Regions from separate parts of the Homo sapiens genome. Here regions 2 and 3 are each linked to region 1. Evidence: fine-mapped expression QTL. A gene starts in region 1. Each other region holds a variant in brackets. All regions are shown on one strand. Distances are between the middles of the regions. Region 1 holds the start of RELL1 (RELT like 1). Region 2 holds the start of LOC105374406 (a long non-coding RNA gene). Region 3 holds the start of LOC105374404 (a long non-coding RNA gene).

Region 1 (6,052 bases):
AAGTAAGACATTTATAGAGAGTGTGTCAAGCAGGTGTTATGGAAAGTTTAGGAAGAGAAATTTCAGAGCCCTGGGTTTCAACCCTGGCTCATAGTAGATATGTCAGGCAGATCACTTAACCATCTCTCATCTGTAAAACAAAGGGCCTGGTAGATAATGGGTAAGGCTTAAGTACTAGATTTTTATATTTGAAGAGCCATAACAGATATACAATTCAAATGTGTTGTTAAAAATGATCCCGTCTTTCTTTTTTTTTTTTCTTTTTTTCTTTTGAGACGGAGTCTCGCTCTGTTGCCCAGGCTGCAGTGCAGTGGCACAATCTCGGCTCACTGCAAGTTCCGCCTCCCGGGTTCACGCCATTCTCCTGCCTCAGCCTCCCGAGTAGCTGGGACTACAGGCGCCCGCCACCACGCCTGGCTACTTTTTTGTATTTTTAGTACAGATGGGGTTTCACCGTGTTAGCCAGGATGGTCTACGATCTCCTGACCTCGTGATCTGCCTGCTTCGGCCTCCCAAAGTGCTGGGATTACAGGCTTGAGCTACTGCGCCCAGCCAAAAACGATCCCATCTTTTTAATACTAAGTCCAATCTGTGGGAAAAGAGTGAAACATGATTCAATTTTGAAATGACATTTTACATTTTGATTAGATTTCTTGATTCAAGCATTTTGTTACATTCTAACTTACAAAACCAGAGCTGGCTTTATAAGTGTGTGACCTGTGCAACTGTGTGTTTAGGAGGGCTCCACAATCGATTTAATGTTGTGTTGTTGCCATCTTGAAATTCTTAACGATTTTTGAACAGAAGGCCCTGCCTTTTCATTTTGCATTGTGCCCTGCAAATTTTATAGCTGGTTCTGGCTACAACTTCTAATTTATAGTTTAATTTCTAGGTCCGGGATTCTCTCCTGTTTTAGTTAGAAATCCACATGGATCGCTTTCCTCCGCACACATTCTCAATGTTTATGTTGATATAAAACTAGCAAAGGCTGCCTGCTAAGACTGCCAGACTGTAGGATGCGCTGCCAACTGAGCGCAGGACGCGCAGTGCCCTCCTTGGGCTTCAAAGGGCAGGGGCTCCATCCTTCAGCCTCAGCCATCTGTACTGTAGTGGCCTGAGCTTCTGTCACTGGCAATTCCCACATCAATGCAATGTTTGTAATAATAGTCCAGCAGACTGCGTGGAGGACTCGGTGAGAGAATAAATAGTCCTCTGAAAACTAGAGGTTATCAGTCACCTCAAGGATGAGACCCATCCTGTGAAAACCCACAGCCTCCATGCACCCCCTCTTCTTGCTGGTGTTGAGTATTTGCTCAAGTCCTGCCCTAATTTCCTTCAAGCAAATGCTTGATGGCCCAGTAACAACAGTCTCTACAGGGCAGTAAAAAGGAACTATTCAGAGAGAGCCTCTGAGTCCTATTAATGCTTGTGAAGATGATTCAACTTCAGAAAACACTTCTGACCTCTTAGCGTGTGCTGTCTGTCCTCCATCCAGGCGCTGAGGGCACAGCAGCGAGCAAACACAATGACAATGAGATAATTACAATTTATCATGGTGGCCCAGACATCGTGGGTTTACTCCCTGGCCTCTAATAGTCACCTCGCAGAGCTGATGTGAGGATGTGAGGAGATAATAAGCGTCTGGGCATTGAAAGACCTACTTTGCGGGAGTATGCGCAAGGTGCAATACAAGCACACGATTAAAAAAAAAAGGCAAGTTGTTCCTGAAAATGCATAGAGGTATTTTCCCCAATAGGAGCAGCTTAAATGCAAACAAACAGAGGAAGAAATTTAAGTTATCTTTTCTGCTAATTTCCAAACAACAGAACGTGACATCCAGCACAGCATCACTCCCTAGATCTGCAACCGAGGGGAATGCTAGTGGATAGACATGCCAACAGCGAAAAAAGCCTGTGCTCACTCCAGTGCTGGCCGCTTCTGACTGTCCAGTGCTTCTCGGGGCGCGCTCCCTCTTTCTCTTCCCACGCCCGCCTAGTCCCAGCGACCGAGGGAGGTTGCACCCGGGCGACCCTCCCCCCGCCCCGGGCTCCCGCGTAATCCCGGCCCGGCTTGGAAAGGAAGCGGGCCTGGCAAGTAGAGGCACGGCCGGGCCACGGTGGGCAGGGCGCAAGGGCGGGGCTATAGCCTAACTGCGCCGCCAAGGCTGCTGCTGGGTTTGGAAAGGAAGCGGGAGAGGAGGGGTCGGGCTGAGCTGTGGGTGGGGAAAAGGGCGGGGCCATGGATGGGCCACGTGCCTTCTTAGGTGGAGTCCGGGGCTCGGTAGGGAGAGGCGGGGCCAAGCTGAGGTGGGTGGAGAAAGAGGGCGTGTCCATGGCCTAGCTACGCCGCTGAGGCTGCTGCGGGGTTTGGAAAGGAAGCGGGAATGGCAGGGAGAGGCGGGATCAGGCTGAGGTGGGCGGGGAGTCGGGGGCGGAGCCATGAGTGGACCTCGTGCCGGCTTAGGTGGAGCCCGGGGCGCGCGGGGAGAGGCGGGACCGAGCCGAGGTGGGTGTGGCGTGGGGCGGGGCAATGGCGGGGCGGGGTTCGCCGCTCCCTGGGGCCCAGCCCAGCCACTCGATCAGCCCGCCGGCTCCGGAGCGGCTCTGCCTTCCCGAGCGCGGGACGCGGCGCCCTGGGGGAGGAGGGCGAAGCGACGCGGCGATGGCTCCGCGGGCACTCCCGGGGTCCGCCGTCCTAGCCGCTGCTGTCTTCGTGGGAGGCGCCGTGAGTTCGCCGCTGGTGGCTCCGGGTGAGTGTCCGGTCGTAGCCGGGGCGCCGGGTGCTGAGCCCGGTCCCGGGAGCGCGGAAGGAAGCGAGGGGTCGGGACGGCAGCCCCGCGGCGTCCTGCTTTCTGGCACAGCCGCGGGATCCCGGCACTGAACAACTGGCTGTCCCGCGGCGGTCCGGGCAGGGCGCGGTGCGTGGCAACGGCTCCCGTCCCTCCCCTCCCGCGGGCCCCGCTCCCGCCTTCCCTCCCTGGGGCCTCCTCCGAGGATCTGTGTTCCCCAGCGCTGGGCAGTGCGGGGCGTAGGGACCAGGCCTTCTTCGGGGGCGCTTCCTCCACGGCCGCTCGCCTCGGAACCCCGCGGACCCGTTTCCCGCCGCCCTTGTCCTCAAAGGCGCCGCGAGCGGAAGATCGTGACACAGAGCACCGGGTGCGCTGTCGGCGCCTCCTTCTCCCTTTTAAATACCTTAAAATATCCTAAAACCTGGAGGACTTTGAATCTCTTTCCACGTTTCCATTTATTTGGGTGGTTGATGGATTCTTGTAACAGGTCAAGGAGTCCACATTTCTTCCCATATATCCTGTATAAATCAGGCTCGGAAAAAGGGAAGGCGCGTTGGTAAACTTACATTTTTTTCTTCTTTTTGTTGATTCCTGTCGTCACGAAAGGAACCTTGTGTGGTCAGGGCAGGAAGCCACCAACAGAGATGCTAAAGTGTCACCAACGATGAAGCAGTTTTTAATTGAAATCAATCTTAAGAGGAGGTGTAAGTTTTATGGAAGTCCTATGTCACATCCTTGCTTTTATAATTACAGACACTAGGGATTCCTTACCACCGCTTCCCCTCTTAATTGCCACCTAACAGCTGCAGTTAAAAAAAAAACATACTTACTTGGCCATTTGGGGTTACTACAGCTGGGAATCTGACGTCAGCAAGCTCTTCCAAGCTTGATTTCAGCGGTGGTTCCTCCTCAGGCCCAAATAATAAGCAACTGGAAGCCTTTCAACAGTGACTGTCTCCTCCATAAACATCCATAAACTCTTCCTCCTGAGAACATTTCAGTCGCTTACAACTTTTACACTGACTTAGCAGTTTGGCCTTCACTTTTTCATAGAAACCAGAGCAGGTTGGAAGGGAAGGAGATGGATAATATTGTCTCCTGAGTCTTTTTAGCAGGCCCGTATTTCCGTTAGCCATCCACCTGGGGAAATGGCAGCTAGTGACATGTTTTACTGGATGGGACAATTTTTTTTTTCTTTTCCTTATTTTGATACAGGGGCTCATTTTGTCACCCAGACTGGAGTGCAGTGGCACAACCTCGGCTCACTGCAACCTCCAGCTCTCTGGTTCAAGTGATTCTCCTGCCTCAGCCTTCTGAGCAGCTGGGATTACAGGCATGTGCCACCATGCCCGGCTAATTTTTGTATTTTTAGTAGAGATGGGGTTTTGCCATATTGGCCAGGCTGGTCTCGAACTCCCGACCTCAAGTGATCCTCCTGCCTCGGCCTCCCAAAGTGCTGGTATTACAGGCATGAGCCACCATGCCCTGCTGGTTCATTTTGATTTTCATCCTGCGTTTGATTGCTGGGACACATAGGTGCATAATCAGGTTCCACTTGGATGTGAGGTTGGAGACATTCATTAGAGGGTTAGAGTCAGTTGCAACAGAATCTGGGGAAGAGTTTAATCTGGGAGTAAAATTATTAAAAATTCAGCACATGATGCATGTAATTAGCCATCATCAGCAGGAGAAATCCATCCCTAGAGTGGGTGTGTGTTTGGTTTGACCTCTGAGCAACACCCAGGTCTCAGGACTAGAATGTGACTGATGAAAGCTCTCATCTAATTGCATGACAGCCTTTTTTTTTTTTTGATGAAAATTAATGCGGAAGAAGAAACAGGTGTCTAAAAAGGAAAGGATACAGAGCACAAATTTGCCAGTATCTTGAGGCGTGTGTAAAGAGAAGATGCTCTGACCAGCCAACATCTGATCCCCTTGCAACCAAAGATGGTGTTAATGTTTGTACCTTGAGCATAGGGAAGTAGAGGGAAAGGAATGGGAAATACTGTTGAGTGCCTGCTGTGTGCCAGGCTTTGGGTTGAGTACTTTGTATGCATTTTTATTTTTATTTATTTTTTTCTTTTTGAGACGGAGTCTTGCTCTGTCGCCCAGGCTGGAGTGCAGTGGCGCGATCTCACTGCAAGCTCCGCCTCCCGGGTTCACGCCATTCTCCTGCCTCAGCCTCCAGAGTAGCTGGGACTACAGGCGCCCGCCACCATGCCTGGCTAATTTTTTATATTTTTAGTAGAGACGGGGTTTCACCGTGTTAGCCAGGATGGTCTCCATCTCCTGACCTCGTGATCCGCCCACCTTGGCCTCCCAAAGTGCTGGGATTACAGGCGTGAGCCACCGCGCCCGGCCGCATTTTTATTTGTTTATTTATTTTTATTTTTATTGTTTTTTGAGACAGAGTCTTGCTCTGACTCCCAGGCTGAGGTGCAGTGGTGCGATCTCAGCTCACTACAACCTCCACCTCCCAGGCTCAAGCAATTCTCCTGCCTCAGCCTCCCTAGTAGCTGGGATTATAGGCGCCCGCCACCATGCCTGGCAAATTTTTGTATTTTTTAGTAGAATCGGGGCTTCCCCATGTTGGCTATGCTGGTTTGTAACTCCTGACCTCAAGTGATCCGCCCTTCTCGACCTCCCAAAGTGCAGGGATTACAGGTGTGAGCCACCGCGCCCAGCCTTCATAGGCATTTTTAAACTCATTGCTCATAACCCTGTGAAATACTTACTTCCAGTAAGGCAACTGAGGCAAGAGAGGTTAAACAACTGGCTGAACATCACATAGGTACTGTGCCAGTCAGCATTCAGAGAAGCAGAACCACTAGGAGGTGTCTGTGTATGTGTGTACCTTTATATGTATCTTTATCTGGGATAACCCAGCCTGCTTGATTCCAAAGTTCATTCCCTTTCCACTGTACCCCACTGCTCTGCAGAGGAAAAATAGAATATGAGTCAACCTCTGCAATCTCGCTGAGATTCTAAGATAGTTTAGAACGTCATAAAATTGTAAGCATGTGGTTATCAGAAGTTGTCAAGTAGAGAAAAGAAGGGCAGATAGCTTCACGGTGGGTAGTGGCAATGCCTTTTTCACTTCCTTCCTAGTAGAAGAATCTCATTAAACTTGTCTCTTAGCAGCAGCATTCGAAACTATATACCACAAGCACCCAAAGGGATGATTTTCCACGTCTTGGCTTATTAATGTCCTTAAGTTCTCTGGTTACTCAACCTTCAGGTTTATTAGTTTCTCTCTCAGACAGT
Region 2 (6,052 bases), 72 kb before region 1:
CTGCTTTTGAGATCCTGGGGCCAGGGCTGCCGTTAACCCAACTAGGAGCTTCACTCAATTTGTAATGCTCTTCCGCCTCTGGTTAGCGTCAGCTTCATAGACACATCTTGGCTTGTAGAATTTGTGCAATGTAGCCAGGGTCAGGGCCAAGGTTTATGAGCAGAACTTGGGCTAAATTTCAAGCCTCATCCTCCTTTGCCCTCTGCAATGGATGAGGCAATTTTGTGCAGTGCTCAAGCTGGGCAACCACACACAACAGCCTTGTCAGGGGCTATGTCTCCATCTCTGGCTCACAATTGCATAGCATAGTGCCTGAACATGACCTTGAGTAATTTGCTTAACCTCTTTGAGTCTTATCTCATTGCCTGTAATACAGTGGTTTTAATAAGACATTACCTCATGGGATTTTTATGAGAGTAAAATGGTCAGAACATGAAGAACAACGGCCCTGTGGTCAGATTCCCTTAGGTCCAAATTCTGGCTCTGTCACTCAGAGGTATGGCTTTGGGCACGTTCCTAAGTCCTCTGAACCTCAGTGTTCTCAACTGGGGATGATAATAGTGTTTACCTCATGGTGTTATTGGGGAGATTAAATAAGAATACGTTTAGAATACATATTTTAGAATCTGGCATGTATCAAATATTCATTCAGGTTTAGCTATTATTACATTTAGCTTTTATGTACAGCTCCTAGAGTAGTTCCTGACATACAGTAACTGATCAAAAAATGGTAACTATCAGGTGATACATATGATCAAATACAAATGATACATAAATGGATGTGGAACAAACTGAAGCAGGATGTTCAGTCCTGAGAGAGCAGACATGTCTTTGTCCACATGACTCCTTTTGGTAACTGTTCTCCTCCCCCACTCCATGAGCTCCTGGAGTAACTCTTACACCTCTGCCTCAGGAGTAACCTTGGGCCCCACACTAGCTGATCTTAGTACTCCATCTCTGAGCACAGCAATTTGCTCAGGCGTGGGCAAGGACCCAAGAAGACCCCTTGGAGTCACCCTTGAATAATGATGCATGTCTGCTGGAGAAGACAGGGCCTCTTTCTCTGAAATTGTGGATAATAGTGCTTGAGGCTCAGGGTGTCACCTAACTGCCAGTGGACAATTTGCCCACCTTGTGGAGAGAGGCTGCGTTACCCACCACTGGAGAAAAAGCAGAGCTGAGCAATGGAGAAGAGAGGGCCTTAATGCCATTGTTTTAATCCTAGATCTAGCCATACCTGAAGCTGTCCCTGCACTTGGACTTCCCAGCCAGATGATCCTCTTATTTCCACTTTTGAGTAAAGTTATTTCAAATTAGCCTTCTTTCATTGGCAGTGGAAAGGACCATCTTACTCAAGGGAATGTCTGATGAATAGTAGTAATAATACTTACAAGATTGGATAACATTTATTGAGGCTTACTAGATGCTAGGCACTCTTCTAAGTGCTTTGCATGTATTAACTTATTTAGACTTTGTAACTGTTTTAGGTAGGCATGTTACTCCTATTTTACAGATTAGAAAACTGAGTTTCATAAAGATTTCTTGGCTAATGATTACAGTCAGGATTCAAACATATTATTTATTTATTTATTATTATTATTATTTTTTTGAGACAGGGTCTCACTCTGTTACCCGTGCTGGAGTGCAGTGGTGCAATTTCGGTTGACTGCAACCTCGACCTCCCGGGTTCATGTGATCCTCCTACCCCAGCCCCCCAAGTAGCTGGGACTACAGACACACACCACTACACCTGGCTAATTTTTGTATCTTTTGTAGAGAGGAGGTTTTGCCATGTTGCCCAGGCTGGTCTTGAACTCCTCGGTTCAAGGGATCCATCTGTCTCAGCCTCCCAAAATGCTAGGATTACAGGCATGAGCCACTGTGCCCAGCCTAGTATTCAAACTTAGGCATCCAAGGGAGCAATGGACCATCCAAAGCACTGGCCTTATAATGTCTTTCAAGTATCATTAGCATGTCTAAAACATTTTGAATTGAATTTTAAATGTAATTTTATCAGAACTAGTTTATTTTAGAAAATAAATATTGCCATGCACAATCATACTTTGTGTTTGGCCAGAAGGGGCATTCCTGTGTTTGCTTAATTACTTTATTTAGCACATGTGACCCTCAGTGATATTTAGCTGTTCACACAAATCAAATATGCCCTTCAAACACAAAGGAATGTAAATTACATAGAAATGTAATTTACAAAGAAGAATGTAAATTAGACTCTCCAGGTGAGCCTAAAAGGCAGACTTCCAAACCTGTGTTGTCCAAGGCTTTTGAAGACAACATTTGGATACATAAATTACAGTATGCAATTAAAATCTCAATCAGATCACGCTATGTTCACACATATTACTTTGTCTTTTACCTGTGTTTCTGACAAAAGTAAGGTATCAGCCACTTGCAATAGGGGGTAAGGTAACTCTAGCTGGTGTCCAGAGGGTGACCCATTTCCTCAGATGACCCTGAGGAAAGCCACCGAAATAACTCGAGAAACATAATGTTGAGATTGAGACTGAAATCGTCCATTGATGTGGCTGGTAACTGCCAGAACAAAACTTTCCATTGAAATTTAATTTTTTCCCTCTTTGCAGAAATGGTATTTTTTTTCCCTTTGCAATTAGAAACCTGTGGGGGAGATAATGTTGCACCATCCACATATCCTTGTCTGCAGCAATTTTTCACTGAATGGCTGAGTCCTTAAGGACAACAACCTTATCCGTCTTGCATGCTCAAGGGCAACTCAAGACAGCTTCATATCACTATTGCTAAAATACCTTCAACACACTTTGTTTTTTGTATTTCTTATGAATCCTAGGTTACAAGTGTTCATTTGGCTATTTGGCTGTTCTTCAAAAACAGCACAAACTTGCTCAATGCTGATGGAGAAGTTCTGCAAATATGTGTCAACA[C/T]TTCCTGTCAGGGGCAGCTGGAAACACTCAGCTTTGCTATGCAAACCTCCTTTCCTTTCCACCAATACCTAGAGTTTTCAAAATAACTTACAAAACAGGTAGGATTCCATTGTGTCCTCCTTATATAGGGGGTTTCAACTCTGATTAAATTTTAGAATCATCTGGGGAGCTTTAAAACTATATCCTGGTCCAAATTTAGATCATTGGATCAGAATCTATAAGGGAGAAGCCAGTATAAGTATGTTCTAGAAGCCTCAAGATGATTGAATTGGGCAGCCCAGGTGGGAACCACAGAAAAAGAAGCCACTTCAGGCAGGGAAAGTAACTGTAATGTCTCCGTTTAACATCAAGGCACTATATACCTTCCTCCAGAATATTGGTTGCTCAACTTTGCCGCACATTAGAATCACTTGGGGAGCTTCTGAATTCCTGATGGCCTGGTTGCATCGCCTGCCAATGAAATGGCAATGCCTGGGCATGCAAACCCGGCATCAGAATATTTTAAAGATGCCAAATGATTTAAATGTACAGCTACATTTTGGAACCACTGCTCCAAAGACTGTCTTCTGAAAAGGCACTTACAATTTGCTTGAAAGAATTCAAGAACCAAACAGTTCTGCTGCTTACTACCTATATGATCTTTTAGCCTATATTTCCTTATTAGAAAGAGAGAGATAATAATGCTAACTTATGGTTGTGTTGTCTGGGCTGAAGGAGAATATATTTACAGCACATAATTGTACCTATCTTATCCCTTGTATTATTTTTCTATTGCTGCCATAACAAATTACGGCAAAGTTAGTGGCTTAAAACAACACAGGTTTATTATCTTACGATTCTGGAGGCAAAAAAATTCAAAATGGGTCTCACTGGGCTAAAATCCAGGTGTGGGCAGGACTGCCTCCCTCTCTGGAGGCTCTAGGGGAAGGTCTGAGTTCCTGCCTTTTCCAGCTTCTGGAGGCCAGCCGCATTCTGTGGTTTAGGGCCCCCTCCCATCTTCAAAGTCACCATGGCCTGTAGCCTATCTCACATTCCATCACATCGCCTCTGAGCCTCCCTTTTTCACACTGAAGGACCCTTGGGATTATACTGGGCCCCTCCAGACGATCCAAGAGAAACTTCCTGTTGTAAAATAGCTGATTTGCAACCTTCATTCCCCTTTGCCATGTGTATTAGTTCATTCTCACGTTGCTATAAAGACATACCCGAGACTGGGTAATTTATAAAGAAAATAGGTTTAATTGACTCACAGTTCCACATGGCTGGGGAGGCCTCAGGAAACTCATAATCATGGCAGAAGGGAAGGGAGGCACATTTTACATGGTGGCAGGTGAGAGAGAAAGCAAGCAAGAGTAGGGAAAACTGCCTTATGGAACCCTCAGATCTCGTGAGAACTCACTCACTATCCCAAGAACAGCAGTCAAAAACCGCCCCCATGATCCAATCACCTCCCACCACGTATCTCCCTAGACACTTGGGGATTACAGGGATTACAATTCGAGATGAGATTTGGGTGGGAACACATAACCAAACCATATCACCATGTAAGGTGACATATTCACAGGTTCTGGACATTGAGAGGTGGCCATCTTTGGGAGGCCATTATTTTGCCTCTCACACCCTCATACCTTTTCCCTCTGATCAGGACACAAAATGTAATTGCAGGTTTATGTCAATTGATATCTTACAAATACATGAGAATCTTATTAACGTTTTATTAGCGTGAAAACAGCTAAATGATACCTATTGCTTTTATTTCTTTTATTATTGGTATTTCTTTTATTATTTGTCTAACAGATTCCTTCCCTGCTGTCTGTTGAAGTGACAGGCTTAGGCACCCTTGTATGTGACTTGATCTTCTGAATAGTCACAGTCAACTGGACCACGGGTAGCCCCTGACCCCTGGCGAGACCATGAACTGGCTTGTGAGCACTTCTTTAGAATTTTTCTTAAGAACTTGAGGTAAAGATTGGCTCTAGAGTGCAGCAATAACTAACTACAATTATCCATACCTCTTACCTAACTGGTTTTGCTGCAAAAACCTTTAATGGCAAAAACCGCAATTACTTTTGCACCAATCTAAGAATTAGAACTGGAGGCTGGGCGTGGTGGCTCACACCTGTAATTCCAGCACTTGAAAGGCCAAAGCGGGCGTATCATTTGAGTTCAGGAGTTCGAGATCAGCCTGGCCAACATGGCGAAACCCTGTCTCCACTAAAAATAAAAAAATTAGCCGGGTGTGAGTGGCATACACTTGTAGTCCCAGCTACTCTGGGGACTGAGGCAGGAGAAACACTTGACCCCGGGAGGTGGAGGTTGCAGTGAGCTGAGATCACGCCACTGCACTCCAGCCTGGGTGACAGAGCAAGACTCTAACTCAAAAAAAAAAAAAAAAAAAAAAAGAATTAGAGCTGGAATTGGCAACATGGTAATTCAATGCCATATACAAGTCAGAATCTGAAAGGAGCAAGAACCACCAGAGCACAGAGGAAGAAGATTTCTGGAGAACTGAGAGAAGCTGAGATGTGAGACATTTTAGCCTCCAAAAGAAAGGTGCTTCCGTTTTTTTCTTTTTCTTTTAAGAAAATTCCTGTTCCCATAGCCTTGGCTGTCTTTTGGAAAAAATGTTTAGAATGAGTTATTGAAAACTAAAACTTGTGACAGCAAAGAGAGTTAGAGAGCTAAATTATGAGTTCTAAAGGTTTTTATAAAGTCATCACAGCTTTTTTGTTTTCTGATTTTTTTTGAGACTGAGTCTCGGTCTGTCGCTCAGGCTAGAGTATAGTGGTGCGATCTCGGCTCACTGCAGCCTCTGCCTCCTGGGCTCAAATGATTCTCCTGCCTCAGCCTCCCAAGTAGCTGGGATTACACACCCACGCCACTACCGCCCAGCTAATTTTTGAATTTTTAGTAGACACGGGGTTTCACCATGTTGGTAAGGCTGGTTTCAAACTTCTGACCTCAAATGATCGATCCGCCTCGGCCTCTCAAAGTGTTGGGATTACAGGCATGAGCCACCACACCCGGCACATCACAGCTTTTTCTTATCCATGTAACAGGGCAAATGAAGGGGGAAAAATGAAAAAAATCTTTAAAATCTCATCATCCTAATGTTCCCGACCTTCCATTTTTTA
Region 3 (6,052 bases), 30 kb before region 1:
TCTTAACAAAGGATTTTACTGGCCACCCTCAGTTTCATCTTAAGACTATTTTCATTATCATGCCCTGGATTTGATCTCTGCCTGAAGCCATTTCTTAATTTTAGCACTGTTTGCCATCTGGAGAGGCTGGAAATGAGGAGCGATTTTATTTTTGAGCCCAACAAGTCCCAGCTCCGTTATACTTAAGAGTTTATCCTTTTCTTTATATAGTTTCTTTTCTCCTCACCTGTTTTACTATATACAGTGAGAAGAAGCCACGTAGTACCTACAACACTGCCTGGAAATGCCCTTAGCTATATTACCTAGTTCATTATTTTCTATTTTCAGTGGAACCACAGGTGAGAGTGTTACTAAACTTTGCATCACTGCATAATAACAGACTCCTGTCCTCCAGCTGTCCCAAACATTTTCCTCACTTCTTACAAGCTTTTGCCAACAGCATACTCAAGACCCTTTAGACTTCTATAACAGTTCCTAGGCTCATTCAGCTTCCGCCTAACTCCACATCCCTAAGCCACTGTCACATATTTTAGGTCTTGTTATGGCACACCCCGCTTCTACGTGCCAGACTTCCTGGTTCTTCATTGCTGAATAACACACTATCCCCCTCCCCATGTGGTAGTTTAGAATAATAACATTCATATATTTTGCTTATATGCATTTTGAGTAAGGCTTAACAGAGAAGGCTTTTTTCTCTCCCATATGGCATCAGCAGGGGTGACTCAACTACGGGCAGAAACAGTTGCTTCCAAGATGACTCGCTTACATGGCTGGAAAGTTGGAGCTCACTGTCAGCTGGGTAGAGCGATGGAGGTTGCCATTCCTATGCACATGGGCTTCTCCATATGGCTTATATTTCCTCACATTATTGTGGTTTGTTTCCAGGGTGAATGTCCCAAGAGAGGTAAAACTATGATCTTTTATTATCTAGCCCCAGAAGTCACATAGAATCTTGTCTGCCACACTTCATTAGTCAAAATAGTCACAGAGATCCATCTAGGTTCAAGGGAGGAACATAAACTGCACCTTTTTCTTTCTTTCTTTTTTTCTCTTTTTCTTTTTTTTTTTTTTTTTTTTCTGAGACGGAGTCTCGCTCTGTCGCCCAGGCTGGAGTGCAGTGGCACCATCTTGGCTCACTGCAAGCTCCGCCTCCCGGGTTCCCGCCATTCTCCTGCCTCAGCCTCCTGAGTAGCTGGGACTACAGAAGCCCGCCACCACAGCCGGCTAATTTTTTGTATTTTTAGTAGAGACGGGGTTTCACTGTCTTAGCCAGGATGGTGTCGATCTCCTGACCTTGTGATCCACCCGCCTTGGCCTCCTAAAGTGCTGGGATTTCAGGCGTGAGCCACAGCACCCGGCCAAACTGCACCTTTTTCAAATCAGGCAGTGGCAAGGTTTTGAATGAGTACATGGATAGGAAATATTGTCACAACCATCTTTGGAAAATATAATACGTCAGGCTTTCTTTTCACACAGCTAATTACATTTTATAGTTAATAAAGTTCTTAATTTTAATGAAGTTCAAATTATTAATCTTTTCTTTTGCAGTTAGTTCTTTGTGTTTGCTGTTTAAGAAAGCTGTGCCTACCTTAAAGTTACATTATCATACCTAATCCTCATCATCCTGTAAGGTAGGTACTCTTGGTATTATAGGTCTCAGTTTTGCTAGAAGAGGAAATTGAAGCACAGAGAAATTAAACACTTGATCAAGGCCTGACTCCAAGGTCTGTGTTTTTGCCTCTTACTGCACCCTGACTCCCTTGGTTTTTTAACCTTAGAGTGAACCCCAATTCCTGTTGGACCTATTCCTGTGAGGCCTGGCATCCCTGGGACCATCTCAGAGCTGAGTTTCCCTCTGAAAGCCTGTTTGTCTGTCTATATTTTCTTTCCACTCCTCTGGAACAAATACCTGATGAAAAACAAACTCTTTCAAGTTTCTAGATGACCTTGTAAGAAGCCATAAAAGAGAAGGCAGCTTCTGAGATACAGATGACTTAAACTAGGTACAAACTCAAAGGGTTTTTGTTTTGTAATGTTGCTGTCGTTGTTGTTGTTATTGTTTTTTGGTCTCCACACAGAAACATAGGATAAGAAAAAGGGAACTCATGGTTATAGTCTAAATGGCCCTAAAAGTGGGTTCCATTTTTAGTATTGAGTATAAATAGCTACACAGTTTTAAGCATAACCATTAGCGTGACTGTAAAACTACCTGTTCCAGTACTCCACCAGGTTGTTGTGAGGATAAAATGAGTCAATGGGCAGAAGTCAACTCCAAGGGCATGACTGTAATAATGCTTCTTTCACCTTGCTAAAAACATCACAGCCCCGCCAGGAGTCAGGTCAGCAGACAGCGTGGAGAACAGAGCCATTTGCTAGCCAGGGCATAGATTAGGAAAACTTTGTGGTCCAAATAATGTCATCATCCATAAACACCTATATTTTTATCTAAATTGCATTGCCAGGCATTTGGAAACCTGCCAACTTTTTGCAGCTGTTCCTTTCCTCACAAGAACAACTAGGTAATTTAAGTTAAATGACTCATTAGGAAAGGGAAGACGCAACTCAGGACTGTGCTGGTTCATTTCACAGTTTTTTTTGTTCATATAGATAAGAGGTGAGAAGTAGGATGGGGTTTTACAATTTGACTGCCTTTTGGCAGTTAAGAAAAATTTCAGTCCTGAATTATTTATGACATATAATGAGGCAAATAAGTTATTCTGGCTTCTTGATTTACTTAAAGTGACAATACAATTATTGTATTTACTCTCTAGTTGCTAAATGGCAAACTTGAAAAGTTCCTGACATCAAAAGAAAGTATCAGTTCTAATCAAGGCCAAATTGAAAAGTGGCTCATAGTTATTGAGGGCTATGTGCCAGGCACTTTTCTAAGGGCTATACAGTATTAGCCCATTCAATTCTCATGGCAGCTCCATGTGCTAGATATGATAATTTCCCATATTCCATGGATATGGAAAATGAAGGCCACAGAGATGTGGGGATCCAGAATTTCCACCAGTGGAATTGGATGCCAGAGCCTACCGTTGGAATCTTATGTTATACCATCTCTCCAGAAAATATAGGATTAAATGCTAAAATAGGATTAAATGCTAAAACTGATATTAAAAAGTAAGCCTAGAGATGGCTTACTCACGGCTGAAAGAGTTAAATAGGAAAAAAACCCTCAGGTTCTAGAGCTGGGGAGGATGGATGGTTCTTAGTGTCCGAGAGGAAGGGTTGGAGAACCAATCACTTCTGCAAAGAGAGAAAAGCCAGTTCCAAATTTCTTCCAATCCAAAAGATGCTCTTTCCCCGCCCCAAATCAGGGTAGGTGTAATAAATTTCCTCCTGCTGACACTGCAAGAGCAAATCCAGTAAAGTGATTGTGGGAAAAGTGGTAGTTGTGCAAGCATTTCACAAGGATTGTTTTTCATTGGAGGA[T/A]AACAATCCTCCTTAGGCATTCAGTCAGTGAAGATGTTGAGATACTTCAGATGGAGAGAAATTCTACACAATAACATTAAAAGCCGGGATACAAGGGTGTTACCACAGCAAGGCTAACAAGCTGGAACCTGAATGGCAATGGAAGCTGAAAAGGGAATAGCAAATGATATACACCAAAGCATTTGTTTAAAGGGGCATGAAGATAAGCCTTCAACCACATCAGGTGAAAGATTTTTTCCATTCATTAGTATGGAAAACTTGGAATGAACATCAGAACTGGACAGAACGGTAGTTATGGCGGATATATAGGTAGTTCCATTAATATCCCCTCTGAGCACTTATTTCCTGCCAGACTTGCAACTGCCAGAATTTGCAACCCTTTTGCCTAAGCCCTAGGGCTTTCTTGGACATGCAAAGGTGCTAGAGAATTCACTGCAACCATCACTGCCCCACCACCTCTCTAACACAGCACATACCCATTGTCCAGTAGCCTCCAACCAATGGCTGGTAGGAGGTGGCAGATATGTATTCTAGCTCCCTTGCCTCTCACCAGGAAACTCAGATGTGCTCTTCACTGTCCCCCATAGGTCCCTGCAGGATTCATCTCTAGTTAGACCTAGTGGCAACTTGCTTGGAAATAGTCATTTATTGGTTTCCTATGTCACTTCCCTACTCCCCTATTGGCATTTCTTGGGATAACCTCCCCCATTAAGCCAGCTGTCTCTGTGTCTACTTAAATTAGGGCTTAGTAAACGATATGTAATTCTTATTCCATATTATGTGTTTAGTCCTAATTAGGTAGTCCAGGTGTTGTTCCTGCCAGCTAATACCTGAACTGAACGGACTGAACAAATGTCCTACCAATTCTTGTGCTTGGCATTGGGACAGGTCAGGTTGGTAAGCTGGTGTCTTCTGATACAGGCTGTTCTGTCTGGGTTGCCTCAGCTTACACAGCTAACCAAATGTTTCATAGCACTTAATTTAATTTTTCCCAATCATGAAGAAATGTTGCCAGAATTATTTAATCAGTTTGACTGTCAGCTCCAAGACAGCAAGAAACGCGTTCATCTTCTTCATAGCTATGATAGCCCAGTTACCAGAAAAGAAGGCCAGCACATATTTAAAATATATTAATGAATGAATTTTAACAAAAGAGTAATTTTTAAATGGTACACTGGCAACCCATTTGATGTAATTTATTAAACTGAGCTTCTTAATAAAGAAGTCTGATAAAGATGTATGTTTATCAAAGACAATGTGTGTCATTAGACTAGGTAATATGTACGAAAGCTATTAGCAAGATATGAGAACCAAATATAAAATTTTAAGCCCCCCAATCAACTAATGGACTCCTCTCTTGGCCAAGGGCATTCCAAAGTAAACCTGAAAAATGAGTTGAGGTCATGGTAGGAAGGGGAGTTAGACATGCCCCATTATACTCACCTCCCTTTGGAATTCAAGCACAACTGACCACCAGAATTAACGTTGAAACAGAGGTCTTAAGACTACAAAACAGACCTTTGTAGCAATAAGCCACCAAATTCCAACCTGACTCTAGTAGAGCATCGCATGACAGATAGCAGGCTCTGAAAGAAATATTTTCCCCCAAAATATATTTATTTGACATATTTTGAAATGGTCCTGCAAAGCTGTCTCTTATAGGGAAAATATATAACTGTATCTTTTTTTTTTTTTTTTTTTTGAGACAGAGTCTCGCTCTGTCGCCTGGGCTGGAGTGCAGTGGCATGATCTCAGCTCACTGCAAGCTCCGCCTCCCAGGTTCACGCCATTCTCCTGCCTCAGCCTCCCGAGTAGCTGGGACTACAGGCGCCCGCCACCATGCCCAGCTAATTTTTTTGTATTTTTAGTAGAGACAGGGTTTCACCGTGTTAGCCAGGCTGGTCTCGATCTCCTGACCTGGTGATCCCCCCGCCTCGGCTTCCCAAAGTGCTGGGATTACAGGGGTGAGCCACTACTCCCGGCCCTATAACTGTATCTATATCTATAGATTTAAATGTTTGAAAGATACTATTTCACACTACTTCTCTCCTGAATCAGGGAAAATACCTGGAAAGGGAAGGGGATTCTGGCAGCTTTTAGGTCTGATGAGAGCTCTGAAGCGTGCTACCTGGAGGCTTCATCTGTATGATAAAACCTTGGTCTCCACAACTCCTTATCTTAACCCAGAAACTTCTTTCTATTGAGTCCAGGTCTTTAGATAATAACTCTTTCAACCAAATGCCAATCAGAAAAATCTTTGAATCCACTTATGACCTGGATTCCCCCACCCCCTAATCTGCCACCAATTCAAGCTGTCCCACCTTTCTGGCCTGAACCAATGCACATCTTATATGTGTCGATTAATTTTATGTCTCCCTAAAAAATGTATAAAACCACACTGTAGCCAGACCACCTTGGGTACATGTTTTCTGCACATCCTGGGGCTGTGCCATGGTCCTCACCTTTGGCTCAGAATAAATCTCTTCAAATATTTTACAGAGTTCACTCTTCATCAGCAGGTAGTCGGCAATTACTATTGTTGGAACTACAATTAATGAATATGTGCTAATTGCCATATCATGTGTGCTCTTTTGAAAGACAGCATAGGTTTTGG

What was found. PIP is the estimated chance that this variant, and not a neighbour inherited with it, causes the effect. A credible set is the group of variants that fine-mapping cannot tell apart.
Region 2: its variant is the best candidate, but not a certain one, in a credible set for the expression of RELL1 in whole blood (TOPMed, PIP 0.79).
Region 3: its variant is the best candidate, but not a certain one, in a credible set for the expression of RELL1 in sun-exposed skin (GTEx, PIP 0.77).

What each region holds. Positions count from the first base shown.
Region 1 is chr4:37,682,897-37,688,948 of GRCh38, reverse strand. RELL1 (RELT like 1) reads left to right here and starts at 2,573. Exons shown (of 7, transcript NM_001085400.2): 1 at 2,573-2,749. The coding sequence starts at 2,662. RefSeq lists silencers at 1,875-2,184, 2,365-3,034.
Region 2 is chr4:37,755,189-37,761,240 of GRCh38, reverse strand. It overlaps LOC105374406 (a long non-coding RNA gene), which reads right to left and starts at 194. Exons shown (of 3, transcript XR_001741505.2): 1 at 1-194. The variant C/T (reference allele first, on the strand shown) is at 2,919.
Region 3 is chr4:37,712,480-37,718,531 of GRCh38, reverse strand. LOC105374404 (a long non-coding RNA gene) reads left to right here and starts at 3,446. Exons shown (of 4, transcript XR_925210.1): 1 at 3,446-3,661. The variant T/A (reference allele first, on the strand shown) is at 3,439.